Regions from separate parts of the Homo sapiens genome. Here region 1 is linked to region 2. A link means that fine-mapping ties the variant in region 2 to the expression of a gene that starts in the linked region. Tissue or cell type: whole blood. Region 2 holds a variant in brackets; the other region holds the start of a gene. All regions are shown on one strand. Distances are from middle to middle.

Region 1 (8,120 bases), 760 kb before region 2:
CAAGCAATCCACCCACCTTGGTCTCTCAAAGTGTTGGGATTACAGGTGTGAACCACTGTGCCTGGCTTTTTTTTTTTTAATTTTTTGTAGAGATGGGGGTCTTATCATGTTGCTCAGGCTGGACTTGAACTCCTGGGCTCAAGTAATCCTCCCACCTCAGCCTCCCAAAGTGCTGGGACTACAGGCCTGAGCCAGTTTTCATTTCTCTTTTTTAAATTTTTTTTTCTTTGAGATGGAGTCTCACTCTGTTGCCCAGGCTAGAGTACAGTGGCATGATCTCAGCTCACCGCAACCTCCACCCCCCAGGTTGAAGCGATTCTCCCACCTCAGCCTCCCAAGTAGCTGGGATTACGGGTGCCTGCCACTGCGACTGGCTAACTTTTGTATTTTTAATAGAGATGGGGGTTTCACCATCTTGGCCAGGCTGGTCTTGAACTCCTGACCTTGTGATCCACCGGCCTCGGCCTTCCAAAGTGCTGGGATTACAGGCGTGAGCCACCGCGCCCAGTCTTTAAATTTTTTTTTTTTTTTTGAGACAGAGTCCTGCTCTGGTGCCCAGACTGGAGTGCAGTGGCACCATCTCGGCTCAATGCAACATTAGCTCCTGGGTTCAAGCAATTCTCCCGTCTCAGCCTCCCGATAGCTGGGATTGCAGGTGCCCGCCACCATTCCTGGCTAACTTTTATATTTTTAGTAGAGGCGGGGTTTCACCGTGTTGGCCAGGATGGTCTCAAACTCCTGACCTCAAGTGATCTGCCCACCTCGGCCTCCCAAAGTGCTGGGATTACAGACATGAGCCACCGTGCCCAGCAGTTTTCATTTCTTGATGGTGTCCTTTGGAACACAGAAGTTTTTAATTTTGACAAAGCTCAATTTACTTATTTCTCCTTTTGTTGCCTGTGCTTTTGGTGTTGTTATCTAAGAAACCATTGCCTAATTAAAGGTCATAAAAGTTTACTCCTATGTTTTCTTTTATGAGTTTTATAATTCTAGCTTCTGTATTTGGGTCTTGTGTTTTTTTATTGAGAACCACTAGTTGTATTCATACTTCATGCACACTCATTTTGAGAACCACTGGTTTGGGTCACATCTGTCTACAATGGCTAATCACTGTTTTTCCCAAAGACAATCCTCACCCTAAGATAAATTTTTAAGTCATCTGTTAGAATGATGTAAATAATATAACAGCTAAGTAACCTTTACTGAGCACTGGGTATGTGCTAAGCATTTTACATTGTATAACCTTGCTCAATATTCACTATGAGGTTAGTGTTACAATTACTTCCACTTTTTATGATGTAATACACTTCACTGTAAGATGATGCAACACATATATCTCCTTTTATGTAAAAGGGGATACAAAAACCCACATCTTTAAGAAGGAAGGCTGTGCAGACTAAATAAGCTCATGTGTGTTAAGCATATGGTACACTACTTGGCACACAGCAGGGGCTCAAAGGATGAGTGCCCCTCTAATTTCTTCATGATCCCCTCCCCCAAAGGAGACCCTACCCCTTTCACTGGTCCAGAAAGCTATCAGCCCCAGGGTTTATTTTTGCATTCTTTTAGAATCCCACTCCCATTTTTTTCTTTTTCTTTTTTCTTTTTTTTTGAGACAGTCTTGCTCTGTCGCCCAGGCTGGAGTGCAGTGGTGCAATCTCGGCTCACTGCAACCGCCGATCCTCGGGTCGAAGTGACTCTCCTGTCTCAGCCTCCCAAGTAGCTGGGATTACAGGTGCCCGCCACCTTGCCCAGCTAAATTTTTTGTATTTTTAGTAGAGACGGGGTTTCACCATGTTGGCCAGGCTGGTCTCGAACTCCTGACCTCAAGTGATCTGCCTGCCTCGGCCTCCCAAAGTGCTGAGATTACAGGTGTGAGCCACTGCGCCCGGCCATTTTTTTTCTTTTTTCTTTTTTTTTTTTTTTGAGGCAAGGTCTTGCTTTGTCGTACAGGCCTGAGAGCAGCGGCGTGATCTTGGCTCGCTGCAGCTTCAACCTCCCAGGCTCAAGTGATTCTCCCACCTCAGCCTTCCCAGTAGCTGAGACTACAGGCATGCGCCACCATGCCTGGGTAATTCTTATGTTTTCTGTAGAGACAGGTTTCACCATGTTGCCCAGGCTGGTCTCAAACTCCTGGGCTCAAGCAATCCTCCCGCCATGGCCTCTCAAAGTGCTGAGATTACAGGCGTGAGCCACTGCGCCTGGCCCACTCCCCCTTTTCTTTCTCTCATTAAGGTTTGTGATTTTTTTTTTTTTTTTTTGAGACGGAGTCTTGCTCTGTCGCCCAGGCTGGAGTTATGGTTTGTGATTTTACTTATGTTATTCTTTAACTATTTTATCTCTTCAACTGCTTTCCAAGTTACATAAGGGCAAAGGCAGATGGTGCCATTTTGTCACTGCAATATTCCCCAACACCCAATAGAGGGCTTGTGGGAATATAGAGATGTTTGAAAAATGTACACCTGTTCACATCATTTCTGGTTTAAAATTCTCCAATGGCATATGGATTGCACTTTGAATAAAGCCCAAATTCTCAAGCATGGCCAATAGGTCCCTACCTGATTGCCCCCCGTCTCTCCATCCACAGCTTCTTCTATTCTCTCCACTTGAGCCATACTTGTTTTCTTTCTGATCCTCAAACATACCTTGCTCTTTCCCCACTCAGTCCGTTCCTTCTGCTTGGAGGCTCTGATTAATTTCTCATCCTTTAGGTCTCAGCTCAAATATCACCTCTTTCTAGAGTCTTCCCTGATCACCTTGTCTAGTGTTACCACCCTTATTATTACACCAGCAGTTATTCTCAGTCATACACTGTTTCGTTTTCTTTCTTCTCTCTCTTTCTTTTTTTGAGACAGAGTCTGGCTCTGTCGCCCAGGCTGGAGTGCAATGGCGCTATCTTGGCTCGCTGTAGCCTCCGCCTCCCAGGTTCAAGTGATTCTCTTGCCTCAGCCTCCTGAGTAGCTGGGACTGCAGGCACAGGCCACCATGCCTGGCTAATTTTTGTAATTTTAATAGAGACGAGGTTTCACCATGTTGGGCAGGCTGGTTTCAAACTCCTGACCTCAAGTGATCCGGCTGCTTCGGCCTTCCAAAGTGCTGGGATTACAGGCGTGAGCCACTGCGTCCAGCCTGTTTCCTTTTCTTCACAAATATGAAATTTCCTTGCACATTTAATATTATTATTGCTAATATTTAAGCACTTACTATACATTAATTAATGAAGTGTGCTGCTTAATGCTTATCAATGGGCTCTCCAAACCCCAAACCCCTGATTTGTAGTGTTTGCTGATTCCTGTGGTGTAAACACTCGCATTGGGAGGGATTTTCAATCTATCAACCTGAGGAAACTGAACACCACCATTTGGGAAGAGAAAGAGATAGTATTTGCTGTACTGATACAGCGGTGGTAAATAATCTCAAAAGCACATATAAAAAAAAGTGTAGTAAAATAATTAGAAAGTGACGTGTTGAATATGTATTCCGTTGTTTTCAATATAAGTTATTTAACTGTAGGTTTATATGTCTTAATTTTCAAAAATGCCTGTGTTTAAAAGCGACTGGCAAAATTTCTAAGCCTTCCGGCCAGGCACGATGACACAAGCCTGTAATCCCAGCACTTTGGGAGGCCGAGGCAGGCAGGTGGATCGCCTGAAGTCTGGAGTTCGAGACCAGCCTGACCAACATAGAGAAACCCTGTCTCTACTAAAATTACAAAAAATTAGCCGGGCGTGATGGCGCATGCATGTAATCCCAGCTACTCGGGAGGCTGAGGCAGGAGAATCGCTTGAACCTGGGAGTCGGAGGTTGCAGTGAGCTGAGATCGCGCCATTGCACTCCAACCCGGGCAATAAGAGCGAAACTCCGTTTCCAAAACAAAAAAAAAATTTCTAAGCCTTCCTCAACTGTCCCTAGTTAGCCTATAATCAGCACATTTTTCAGCACACAAGGGTTAAGCGACTTGTTGAACTAGCTAATAAATCAGTCTACTACTCCAAAACGCATCTGTAGAACCTAACATAGTGCCTGGAAAATAGTTGGCGTTTAACAAACAACTGCCAGAATAAATTTTTTAAAAAATACACATTTAACACTCTTTAAAAACATAAAAGGTACCAGCCTGGGCAACATGGCGAAACCCCGTCTCTACTAAAAGTACAAAAACTTAGCCGGGTGTGGTGGCGCGCACCTGTGGTCCCAGCTACTCTGGAGCCCGGGAGGTCCAGGCTGCAGTGAGCTGAGATTGCGCCACTGCACTCCAGCCTGGGCGACGGCACTGAGACCCTGTCTCAAAAACAAAAAACATAAACATTTTGGGCAGGGTGCGGTGGCTCACGCCTGTAATCCCAGCATTTTGGGAAGCCGAGGCGGGCGGATCACCTGAGGTCAGGAGTTCGAGACCAACCTGGCCAACATGGTGAAACCCCATCTCTACTAAAAATACAAAAAAAAAAAAAAAAAAAAAATAGCCGCGCGTGGTGGTGGGCGCCTGTCATCCCAGCTACCCAGGAGGCGGAAGTTGCAGTGAGCCAAGATCGCGCCACTGCACTCCAGCCGGACGACAGAGCGAGACTCCGTCTCAAAAAAAATAAAAATAAAAATAAAAATAAACATTTTGGCATTGAAAACATACACGCAAGAGTGAATTTAACATCTGTTTAAAAGTCTCTCACAATCCCAGGAAGGCGACTACTTCCGCTTCTACTTTCAGCAGCGTTTCAGCCCCGCTATAGCGGCGCGGCTTCACAAAACACCTGCGATCGTAGAAGGTTTCGCCCCACCTTCTGCATACGCAGCTTGAGGCGCCCGCTTTCCGTCGCTCCGGCCCGCCTCGCCGCAAGGCTTTCTGGGAGCCGTAGTCCCCACGTCTGGCCTCTCCGGCGCCAGCGGCAGCGCGCGCCCACCCGCGGAACTACAGAGCGTGGCGCACAGCGCGCGAGGCTCCTCCGCCTCGCCTTCCCTCCCCGCCCGCGCGCCCGCCCCAGTTATCATGGCGGCTCCCTTGGTCCTGGTGCTGGTGGTGGCTGTGACAGTGCGGGCGGCCTTGTTCCGCTCCAGTCTGGCCGAGTTCATTTCCGAGCGGGTGGAGGTGGTGTCCCCACTGAGCTCTTGGAAGAGAGGTGAGGCCACTGGCTCGAGCAGACTGTCAGGCCCCACCTGCCCTCCCGCGGCCTCTGTGAATGGGAGGCGGGGGCAGTGACCGCCAGCGCGCGGTTCCTAGAGAACTAACTGACTGTCTCGTGGGGTTCTTGGAGAGGGCGGGGCCTGAGGGCGGGGCTGGTGAGGGGAGGGGGCGTGGGGACCGGGGCGTGGGGACAGTGTCGTGAGGTTTGGGCCCTGGGGGCCGGACCACCTAGTGGTGGGGATCTGAGGGGGCGTGTCCCATTCAGTGTCCTGAGCCGAGGAGTGTGGTCTGTGGGAAGGGTTGGAATAAGAGGAGGAGGTGCTTGTGGAGCGCGGCTTGCAGAGGAGTTTGGGATTTGGGGCGGGATCGCCAGGGGTGCTCCCTGGGATAAAAGGTTATGTGTGAGGGGGTCCGGGATGAGGGGACCAATTTTGCTTAAGCGAGGAGAGTGTGCGTGTGCTTTAGACGTCTCTTCTCAGTCTGGGACTTGCAGGGCAATTTTTGTTACTGTTCCTTACTAAGTTCTTCACCGAACATTGTTTTATACTAACGCCTACAGCGAGAAAGCGAAGTTGGCCTGAAGTAGCTGCACAGGCTAGTGAGGGAGACAAATCGTTATAATAATTCATGAAAAGTATACTTTATGTGTCCACCCAGTTCCTTCCTTAGTATTCTGACCCTGAATAAACTATCCCCTACCTTTCCAGTTTTCCAGAATGTGGGATTTGAGCTGACTCTTGAAGGATGTAGGGTTTTGAAAGGGAGATTAGAGAAAAGGAGAGTTCCAGGTAGCAGAAAGTAAATAGGATGAAGAAACGTTCAAGGATGTGAAATGTCCAAAGCAGGGGAGTAATGGGGTGGAAGCTAGGTTTAGGCCAGAGTTTGATGATTAAAAAAAAACAAACAACTTTTTTTTTTTTTTTTTTACTGAAGTACAGTATACATACAATGCATATTAAGTAAGTGTAGAGTTCAATGAATTTTTAAAAACTGTATTCACTCATGTAGCCAGCACCTAGTTCAAGAAACAGTATCAGCACCCCAGAAGTCCCCTTTGTGTCCTTTAAATGCTAAAGTTTTTTTGTTTTTGTTTTTGTTTTTTGTTTAGAGACAGGGTCTTTCTATGTTGCCCAGGCTGGTCTGGAACTCCTGGACTCAAGCAGTCTCACTTGGCCTCCCAAAGTGCTGGGATTTCAGGCGTGAGCCATGGCACCTGGCCAAGGCTAACGTTTTGATGTTATCCCATAGAATGTTGGTATGGGGAACGGCATAATGAATGGGTGTTTTATGAATAGAGTTAAGGTTTCTAAAAATGGTAACATATACCTTTTCTCATTTAGTCCTCACATTTATTTCTATGTGATAGATGGTGTTATTTTCCCCCTTTTACAGATGAGGGAACTGAAATTTAGAGAAGTTAATTTGCCCAGGTTTCCTAGTTGGGGAATGGTAATAAAGATAGTAATAATTCATGTCTGAGATTGTAAGAGCTTGGATTTGTTACCTCTGCGTATTATTTTTCTGTTGAAATGAATCGAAGCCATTTGGTTCCTGTTTTCTTCTGGATAACTGAAAACCTGAGGCAGTATTAGGCCCTTCTTCCTCTACACCCTACTAAGAGCATTTCTTATCTCATAATTACCTGTTTATATCCGGTTTTTCCACATTTTCTCTCTCTCTCTTTTTTTTTTTTTTTTTTTTTGAGATGGAGTTTCACTCTCATTGCCCTAGCTGGAGTGCAATGGTGCGATCTCGGCTCACCATAACCTCCGCCCCCTGGGTTCAAGCAATTCTTCTGCCTCAGCCTCCTGGGCAGCTGGGATTACAGGCATGCACCACCATGCCTGGCTAATTTTGTATTTTTAGTAGAGACAGGGGTTCTCCATGTTGGTCAGGCTGGTCTTGAACTCCCGACCTCAGGTGATCTGCCTTCCTCGGCCTCCCAAAGTGCTGGGATTACAGGTGTGAGCCGCCATGCCTGGCCTCTTTTTTTTTTTTTTTTTCTTCAAGAGACAGGGTCTCACTCTGACACTCAGGCTGGAGTGCAGTGATAATGGGTCACTGCAGCCTTGACCTCTCGGGCTCAGGACATCCTCCCTCCTCAGCCTCCCAAGTAGTTGGTAGCTGGGACTACAGGCATGTACCACCAACCCTACTTGTTATTATTATTATTTTTTTGTATTTTTTGTAGAGATGGGGTTTCACCATGTTGCTTAGGCTGGTCTCAAACTCCTGGGCTCAAGTGATCCGCCCATCTGGGTCTCTCAAAGTGCTGGGATTACAGGCATAAGCTACCACACCTGGCCTTTTCCACTATATTATGAGCTCCTTGAAGGATTCTGTTTTATTCATTCCTGAATTCTTTTATGTCTGGCATACAGTAGGTGTGTAGTTACTGTTGAATAAATGTGGAAGAGAAGAAAGCATAGGATCTGGTTACTTACAGGAGGTTACTTACAGGATGGACAGGTGAAGGATCCAAAGATGAGACAGTGTTGTTTGGTAATTAAGAGTGCAGGGTCTGGAATCTCAGAAAAGGTTTGACTCTTTCTCTAGTTCTGCAACTTATAAGCTGTATGAATTCTTTTTTTTTTTGAGACAGAATTTTGCTCTTGTTGCCCAGGCTGGAGTGCAATGGCGCGATCTCGGCTCACTGCAACCTCCGCCTCCCAGGTTCAGGCTGTTATCTCGTCTCAGCCTCTTGGGTAGCTGGGATTACAGGTGCCCGCCACCATGCCCAGCTAATTTTTGTATTTTTAGTAGAGATAAGTTTCACCATGTTGGCTAGTCTGGTCTTAAACTCCTGACCTCAGGTGAGCCGCCCGCCTTGACCTGTGAAAGTGCTGGGATTACAGGCATGAGCCACTGCGCCAAGCTTTTTTTGTTGTTGTTGTTTTTGAGATGGAGTCTCAGTCTGTTGCCCAGGCTGGAGTGTAGTGGCATGATCTTGGCTCACTGCAACCTCTGCCTCCCAGGTTCAAGCGATTCTTCTGCCTCA
Region 2 (8,120 bases):
AAAATATCAGATTCCTGGATCCACCCCAGACCTGCTGGATCAGAGCCTCTTGCTAACAAGCTCTCAGGGCTGAAGGCAGGGATTAGGGCTGAGGGTTCCATGGGGACAGACATTGCCTGGGTCTAGCCCAAGAGACAGTGGACCCTGATTCTTCCCCCACCTGCCCCAGCACTGATGTTCCCTGGGTTTGGGGGTGACTGACCCTTTTGGAGACAACCTGCAGGGTGTACCCAGATTATTCCCACCCTCTCACACATGACCTGGAGGGAGCAGGCTCCAACTTCCTCATGCCCTCCCTGGAGTCCTCAGAAAGGGTCCCAGCAGGACCTACCTGTTACACAGGTAATAAATGACCCTAAGAAAAGATACTAAACCTCTCTAGCAACCCAATGTCTTAGTTCGTTTTCTCTTGCTTATCACAGAGTACTTGAAACAGAGTAATTTGCAAAGAAAAGGGATTGACTTCTTACAAGTGTGGAAGCTGAGTAGCCCAAGGTTAAGGGCTTGCATCTACTGAGAAGCTTCTGGCTGGTGGAGACTCTCTTCAGTGTCCCAAGGCAGTGTAGGGCATCACACATGGTGAGGGGGCTGAGCGTGCTAGCTTAAGTCTTTCTTCCTCTTCTTCTTCTTCTTTTTTAAAAAAATTAGAGATGAAGTCTCACTATGCTGCCCAGGCTGGTCTCAAACTCCTGGGCTCAAGCAATCCTCTATCCTCGGCCTCTCAAAGTGCTGGGATTACAGATGCAAGCCACCACGCTCATCCCTCTCTTCCTCTTCTTATAAAGCCACCAGTTTTACTCCCATGATAATCCAGTAATCCACTAACCTATGAATCCATGAATAGATTAATCCATTCATAAGGGCAGAGCCCTCATGACCCAATCACCTCTTAAAGGCCCTACCTCTCAATATTGCCACATTGGTGATTAAATTTCAACATGAGTTTTGCAGGGGACAAATATTCAAACCACAGCACTCAGCAAATGGGAGTTAATGCAATAAGAAAACGCCCTGGAAGGTTCTCAAGAGGGAAGGGCTGTAGTCAGACACCTTCCTAATCAAATTCATCCCTGCTCCATTTGGAATTTGAATGTACTCGAGTGCTCACAGGAGCTAAATTATTCTTTTTGTACATATGGTAATGACAGTATTAGGCCCACAAATATCTTGGTATGTGGTTATTTTTTAAAAGGACAACATACTGTCAAGCTAGATACCAACAATCAGTAATCGCTCAAGTAATCACTTTTTAAAACTTCAGTCTAAAAAAGAGTTCAATAATTACTGCTATCCGCAATAAGAATGAATCTCATAGACTCAGTGAATGGGCAAAACAAGCCAGACACAGAAAGCTAGATACCAGATGATTCCATTTATATGAAATGCAAGAACAGACAAAACCAATCTATGGTGATAGAAGTCAGGATAATGGTTATTTTTGAGGAGCGTTGACTGGAAGGGAAACTTTTAGGGAGGTGGAATGACCTGTGTCTTGACCTGGGTTGGAATTACACAGGTGTACACAAAGTAAAGATTCACTGAGTTGTACATGTATAACTTATGCACTGTACTATGTGCAATTCATGCCTTAAAAATGTTTTAAAGAGTTGGATTGTTTCTTTCTGGTTATCCATGTCTTTCGTTAACATTCAGATAGTGACTGAGAACTGACTGAGCGCTTACAATGTACACACCCACTCAAGTGGGGCAAGTGGCAGAAACAAGGGAAGGTTAGGCCTTGGCTTAGCCAGCACTGGACTCTGGACTTACAAGGCTTACAGCTGGAGGGGGCTACCAAGGCCAACTGTGCTTGATGCCATTGAGACTCCCACTCCCACACATAGTCCAAAAGAGCCAAGGCCAGGCCTGCGCAGCCTGCTCCACTGGGGGAGTGAACCACTCAGAAGGCAGCTGAACGGACTGGGAATAGGAGAAGCTATTAGCAGCTACCCTGGCCACGGGGCCCTGCAGGATCAAAGATGAGAACTGATCGGGCCCACAGGGCAAGGGGGAGGCCAGAGCCAGCAGGAAGGATAATTAGGAAAGACATCAGGCCAGGCTGGACAATGGAGGCTCAGAGATGTCAGGATTCTCACTCCCTGTTGGGACCACATGGCAGGAGGCAAGGGCTCCCCCTGGGGGCCAGGCAGGTAATGGACAATGGTCCCCAGATAAGAGACCAGAGACGTCCAGTTCATGCCCAACATTTCACAGCAAGTCAGGGACTCAGCCAGGACAAGACCCCACACATCCTGCACTCTATAGGCTTCTCCCCACCATCCCAGCAACACCCCAAGGTGATGTTTATTTCCTACCCTGAATGTTCCACATTCTACGTTCCCTGCATTTTCAGCTCTTTTTTTTTTTTAAGACTTAATTCTTGATTCTTTTGACAGCTTACATCATCCTGAAAGTAAAGTGAAAAAGCCATACCACACTACCCACTTTTAATACAGATCTTTGTAGATTGGGAAGCATAAACCAACCAAAAGAGTGATAATTAGTTCTGAATTCAAGTGAGGTTTATGGAATGTGAACCATTTGGGTAATCGGCTGGGGTGGTGCCATGAAGTGGTAATTAATTTGTTTTTTTCCCTAAAATGTTTTACTTAATTAAGGGAGGTGTTGATTTATATACACCTGTCCCCTGGGGATGGTTTGTAAGGCAGGAGAAAATTCCAACTGTCTCCCCGCCACGTTTCTCATCAAATTATTTCATTACATTCAGATACACTTTTGCAGCACTGATTGTGACAGATTCTGGAGTTATGAGCTCATAAATACTGGGGGGTGGGGGGAAGCTGGAGATGCACACTTAATGGGAAATGTTCTCATAATCAAAAGAATATTTCAAGCTGTGACAATGCAGGCCAAGAGAGGGAGGGGGAGCCACTTCAAAGAATAACAGGATGCTGAATAACCCAGCACCTGCAGCTCTGCCTCCTTCTGAGTCAGCTGGGCTCTCAAATATCAGCTTGCGAAGGGCGAATGTCAGGAGGATTTGTAGCTAGTCCTGGGTTCTTTGTCATAACTTACTTGGAGCTGATAGTAGCTTAAGTTTGTTCATTTACTTAACAAATATTTATTAAGCAGCTACTATGTGCTGGGCACTGTGCTACACACTGGGAATACAATAGTGAACAAGACAAGTTTGTTTCCTACCTTCATGGAACTTACAGTCCAGGAAGAGAAAAAAATATAAACAAGTAAAAGAATAAATAGCTGATAAACATATGCCTACTCGATGATCTAGCAATTCTACTCTCAGGCATATATCCAAAATAAATGAGTGCATCTCTCCATGGAAAGACGTGTAAAAATGTTCACAGCGGTGTTATTCAACAGCAACCAGTCAGAAGCAACCCATGGTCGGCCAGCAGAAGAATGAATAAATGAATTGTGTTATACTGACACAATGGAACACTGCTGTGCAATGGGGTATTGCTATGCAGTACTCCATGCAACAGCAATATAAAAAGAACAAACTGCTGTTGCATTTATCCACATGCAAAAATGTGGCTGTATCTCACAGACAATGATGAATGAAAGAATTTAGGCAAAAAGTGTCCAAATTACACGATTCCACTTACATGAAGCTCAAAGGCAGGCAAAACTCATCTATGACAGAAACCAAATAGAAATTAGAATAGTGGCTACCTTTGAGAAGAAGAGACATGAGGGAGCTTTCTGGGGTGTCTGGGAACCTTCTATGTCCAGATATGGGGAACGGTTACAAGCACACATGTGTAAAAAGTCATAGAGGCCAGGTGCGGTGGCTCACGCCTGTAATCCTAGCACTTTGGGAGGCCAAGGCAGGTGGATCACCTGATGTCAGGAGTTCGAAACCAGACTGACAACATGGTGAAACCCCATCTCTACTAAATACAAAAAATTAGCCGGGCGTGGTGGCACATGCTTGTAATTCCAGCTACTTCGGAGGCTGAGGCAGGATGATCACTTGATCCTGGGAGGCAGAGGTTGCAGTGAGCCGAGATTGCACTATTGCATCTCAGCCTGGGCAACAGAATCAAAACTCTCTTTCTCAAAAAAAAAAAAAGTCATTGAGCTATACACTTAATATTATACTTCAATTAAAGCACGCATTTTAATGAGATCCAA[T/A]ACATTTTAAAAATAATAAATAGCTAAGATAATTTCACATGTTGATGAAAGATGTGAAGAAAATAAAACCAGGCCACAGGATGGGGAGCAAAGACCCTTCCGCAGAGATAGCTTTGAGATGCCACCTTTTCTGGAGGTGGCCCATGGGAAAACCTGAGGAATAAGCATTCAAGATAAGGAAGCCGCAAGGTCACTGGCTTCAAGGTGGGGCATCTGGGCATGTCTGAGCAACAGCACGGATACCAGGATAGCTGGAGTGGGAGAGTAGAAGAGGCCAGGGGGACTGTCAGGAGCTGGCCAACCCTATGGGCCACATAAGGATTCGGGTTTTATTCTAAGCATGATATGAGCCATTGGAAAGTGGAAGCAAAGAAATGGCATGACCCAACTGACCTGATTTTTTAAAACTGAGGCTACCTATTGGAATGTGGGGGGGGGGGAAACTGACAGTAGGAGAAACGGCTGCAGTGCTGAGTGGAGAGGCAGGACCTGGAGCACAAGCAGGGGCTGGGTGGGCACCGTGGCTGGGATCGCCACCATCAAGGCAGTAAAGCGCAAGAGCCAGGTTCAGCAGCAGCAGGCAGATGATGCAGAGGAGAGAGCTAAGCGCCTCCAGCGGGGAGTAGAGGGAGCAAGGTGGGCCCGGAACAGGCTGAGGCCAAGGTGGCCTCCTTGAACCATAGGATCCAGCTGGTTGAAAAGGAGCTGGACAGTGCTCAGGCGTGCCTGGCCACTGCTCTGCAAAAGCTGGAAGAAGTGGTAAAAGCTGCTGATTGAGAGTGGGAGAGGTAGGAAGGTTATTGAAAATCGAGCCTTAAAAGATGAAGAAAAGGCTGGGCGCGATGGCTCATGCCTGTAATCCTAGCACTTTGGGAGGCCGAAGTGGGTGGATCACCTGAGGTCAGGAGTTCAAGACCAGCCTGGCCAACACGGTAAAACTACTAAAAATACAAAAATTAGTCGGGTATGGTGGTGCGCACCTGTAATCCCAGCTACCCGGGAGGCTGAGGCAGGAGAATCACTTGAACCCAGAGGGCAAAGGTTGCAGTGAGCTGAGATTGCACCACTGCACTCCAGTGGGTGACAGAGGGAGACTCTGTCTCAAAAAAAAAAAAAAAAAGATGAAACTCCAGGAAATCCAACTCAAAGAAGCTAAGCACATTGCAGAAGATAGGTAGGAAGCATGAAGATGGGGCTCGGCTCATAAGTTGGTGGTTGTTGAAGGAAACTTGGGACGCAGAGAGGAACAACCTGAGCTGGCAGAGTCCTGTGGCTGAGAGATGGAGGAGCAGATCAGATCGATGGACCAGAACCTGAAGTGGCTGAGTGCTGCCGAAGAAAAGGACTCTCAAAAAGAAGACAGATATGAGGAAGCAACTGAGATTCTTACTGATAAACGCAAGGAGGCAGAGACCCGGGCTGAGTTTGCCGAGAGATCGGTAGCCAAGCTGGAAGAGACAATTGATGACTTGGAAGATAAACTGAAATGCACCAAGGAGGAGCACCTCTGTACACAAAGGATGCCAGACCAGACCTGCTTAACTGAATGAGATGCAGAGCACCCCAGTCCCACCTTGCCACTGCTCCTCCCTCTGACCCCAACTCCAACTAGGCCAGCCTGCCCAAAGCTGCCCTTTAACTGAGGGTTGATCTTTAACTGGAAGGCTGCTTTCTCCTTTCACCACCCCTACCTCCCCCACGTGTCTTTTTTGCCAAACTGTCTCTGCCTCTTCCCAGAGATTCCAGCTGCGCTAGAGGCTGAGCACCTTTGGGAACAACATTTAAGCGAATGTGAGTGCAACACATAATGTCTTTAAAAGCATGTTGTGTTGTATACATTTAGTAATTACCTTTTTTGTTGTTTTATAGCAACCATTTGTAAAACATTCCAAATAGTTCCACAGCTCTGAAGCAGCAATCTAATCCCTTTCTCCCTTTTGGAAGGTGACTGTTTAGCTTACTGTATATTGCTTTCTCTAGAAAAAAGGGAAAAAGGTATGAGCCTGCCTTACTGAGAACCAAACAGAGCCCGGGGAAAGACTCCACTCTGGGAAATCATAGCTTTGCACAAAGTACCAGCCAAACCAGAAAGGTGATTCCAGGAGTTAGCCCAAAAACAACAGCAACAAAAAATGTGCTGTTCAGGTTTTCAGCTTTAAGATATCTTTGGACAAAGTTATTTTTACTTTTTTGTTTTTTCATTAGAAGTGACCAAATTAAGCCAGGCGCAGTGGCTCACGCCTGTAATCCCAGCACTTTGGGAGGCTGAGGCAGGCGGATCACTTGAGGTCAGGAGTTCAAGACCAGCCTGGCCAACATGGTGAAACCCTGTCTCTACTAAAAATACAAAAATTAGCCAGGCATGGTGGTGGGCGTCTGCAGTCCCAGCTATTCAGGAGGCTGAGGCAGGAGAATCACTTGAACCTGGGAGGCGGAGGTTGCAGTGAGCCAAGATCGCGCCACTGCACTTCAGCCTGGGCGACACAGCAAGACTCCATCTGGGACAAAAAAAAAAAAAAAAAAGAAGTGACCAAATTAAGACGGTGAGACCTCTGAGACCAAATTTCTGTCCCATCTCCACCCCATTCCCAGCCGCTTACAGAGTGGATCATGTGCCCCTTACATTGAGGTGACCACTTGATTGCTCTCCTGCCTCCTTGAAAGAAAGAAGATTATGTTTTTGCCACTGATTTAGCCACATGAAACTCATCTCATCACCCTTTTCTGGGTTTGAAGCTGCTGTCTCTAAAAGTGCCATGTCATTGTGCTTTGTATCAGTCAGTGAGAAATCTTGAATAGCTTGTGTACAAAACTTTTTAAATGTCATATTATTTTGAAACTTTGCTTCTTTGGGTTTCTGGCACCCTGGCTACCCCCTCTGGCTGTGAGAGCTCTCCACAGTCTGTAGGCTGGCAGGTTGCTGATCTTTTAAAGTTTCTTTCCCTACCTAATCCCCACTTTTTGGTAAAGTTTCTAGGAGGTCTGTTAGGCGTACAAACTGCAGCTTATTGGCTTACAATGTACTCTCCTTTGATGCCTCTTTGACGACAACTGGGAGAAAAAGAAATCAATAGTGCAACTGTTTTGATACTGAAGACTGATGAGTGTCTTTTTGAAATAAAGAACCAGGCCACGCATGATCGCTCATGCCTATAATCTCTGCACTTTGGGAGGCCAAAGCAAGTGGATCACTTGGGGCCAGGAGTTTGAGACCAGCCTGGCCAACATGGTGAAACCCCATCTCTACTAAACAAAATGCAAAGAAATTGGCCAGGCATGGTGGCACATACCTGTAATCCCAGCTACTCAGGAGGCTGAGGCAGGAGAATTGCTTAAACCTGGGAGGCGGAGGTTACAGTGAGCCGAGATTGCACCATTGCCCTCCAGCCTGGGCGATAGAGCAAGACCCTGTCTCAAAAAAAAAAAAAAAAAAAAAAAAGAAAGAAAGAAATTAAGAACCAGTCCCTCCAAAAAAAGACCCAAACAAACAAGCAAACAAACCCTGACTGTACAGCACTGGTGAGGATGTCAAGCAATAAGAACTCTCACACATTGCTGGTGGGAAGGCCAAATAGTTCAACTTCTCCGGAAAACACTTGGCAGTTCCTTACAAAGATAAATATACACTTAACAAACTACCCAGAAATCTCTTTGGCATTTACTCAAGTGAAACAAAAGCCTATGTTGAACCAAAAAACATATGAAAATGTTCATATCAGCTTTAATTATAATCATGAAAAACTGGAAACCCCAAATGTTTCCCCATTGAGGAATGGTTAAACTGTAGTCGAGCTATACAATGTAACCCTATTCAGCAATAAAAAAAAGGATGTCTACCTTAAGTAAACAGGAGAGAGACCTGCTCTCCAGAACAGTTGCCCTCCAGGACAAGCAATTGATACATACAAAAACTTGGATAAACTTCAAATATATTGTGTTACTTAAAACAAAGAGTTTATTTGGGAATAGCAGGAGCGATATGCATGCTCTGGTGAACCACA

What was found. PIP is the estimated chance that this variant, and not a neighbour inherited with it, causes the effect.
Region 1: PIGU starts here. The variant in region 2 is fine-mapped to the expression of PIGU in whole blood (INTERVAL, PIP 0.96).

Annotation. Positions count from the first base shown.
Region 1 is chr20:34,673,953-34,682,072 of GRCh38, reverse strand. PIGU (phosphatidylinositol glycan anchor biosynthesis class U) reads left to right here and starts at 4,981. Exons shown (of 12, transcript NM_080476.5): 1 at 4,981-5,117. The coding sequence starts at 4,988. RefSeq lists enhancers at 3,741-4,626, 4,627-5,513 and silencers at 4,912-5,021, 5,262-5,361.
Region 2 is chr20:33,909,876-33,917,995 of GRCh38, reverse strand. It overlaps the pseudogene TPM3P2. Among named protein-coding and RNA genes, the nearest start is that of RALY, 80 kb to the left of the region's middle. The variant T/A (reference allele first, on the strand shown) is at 4,120.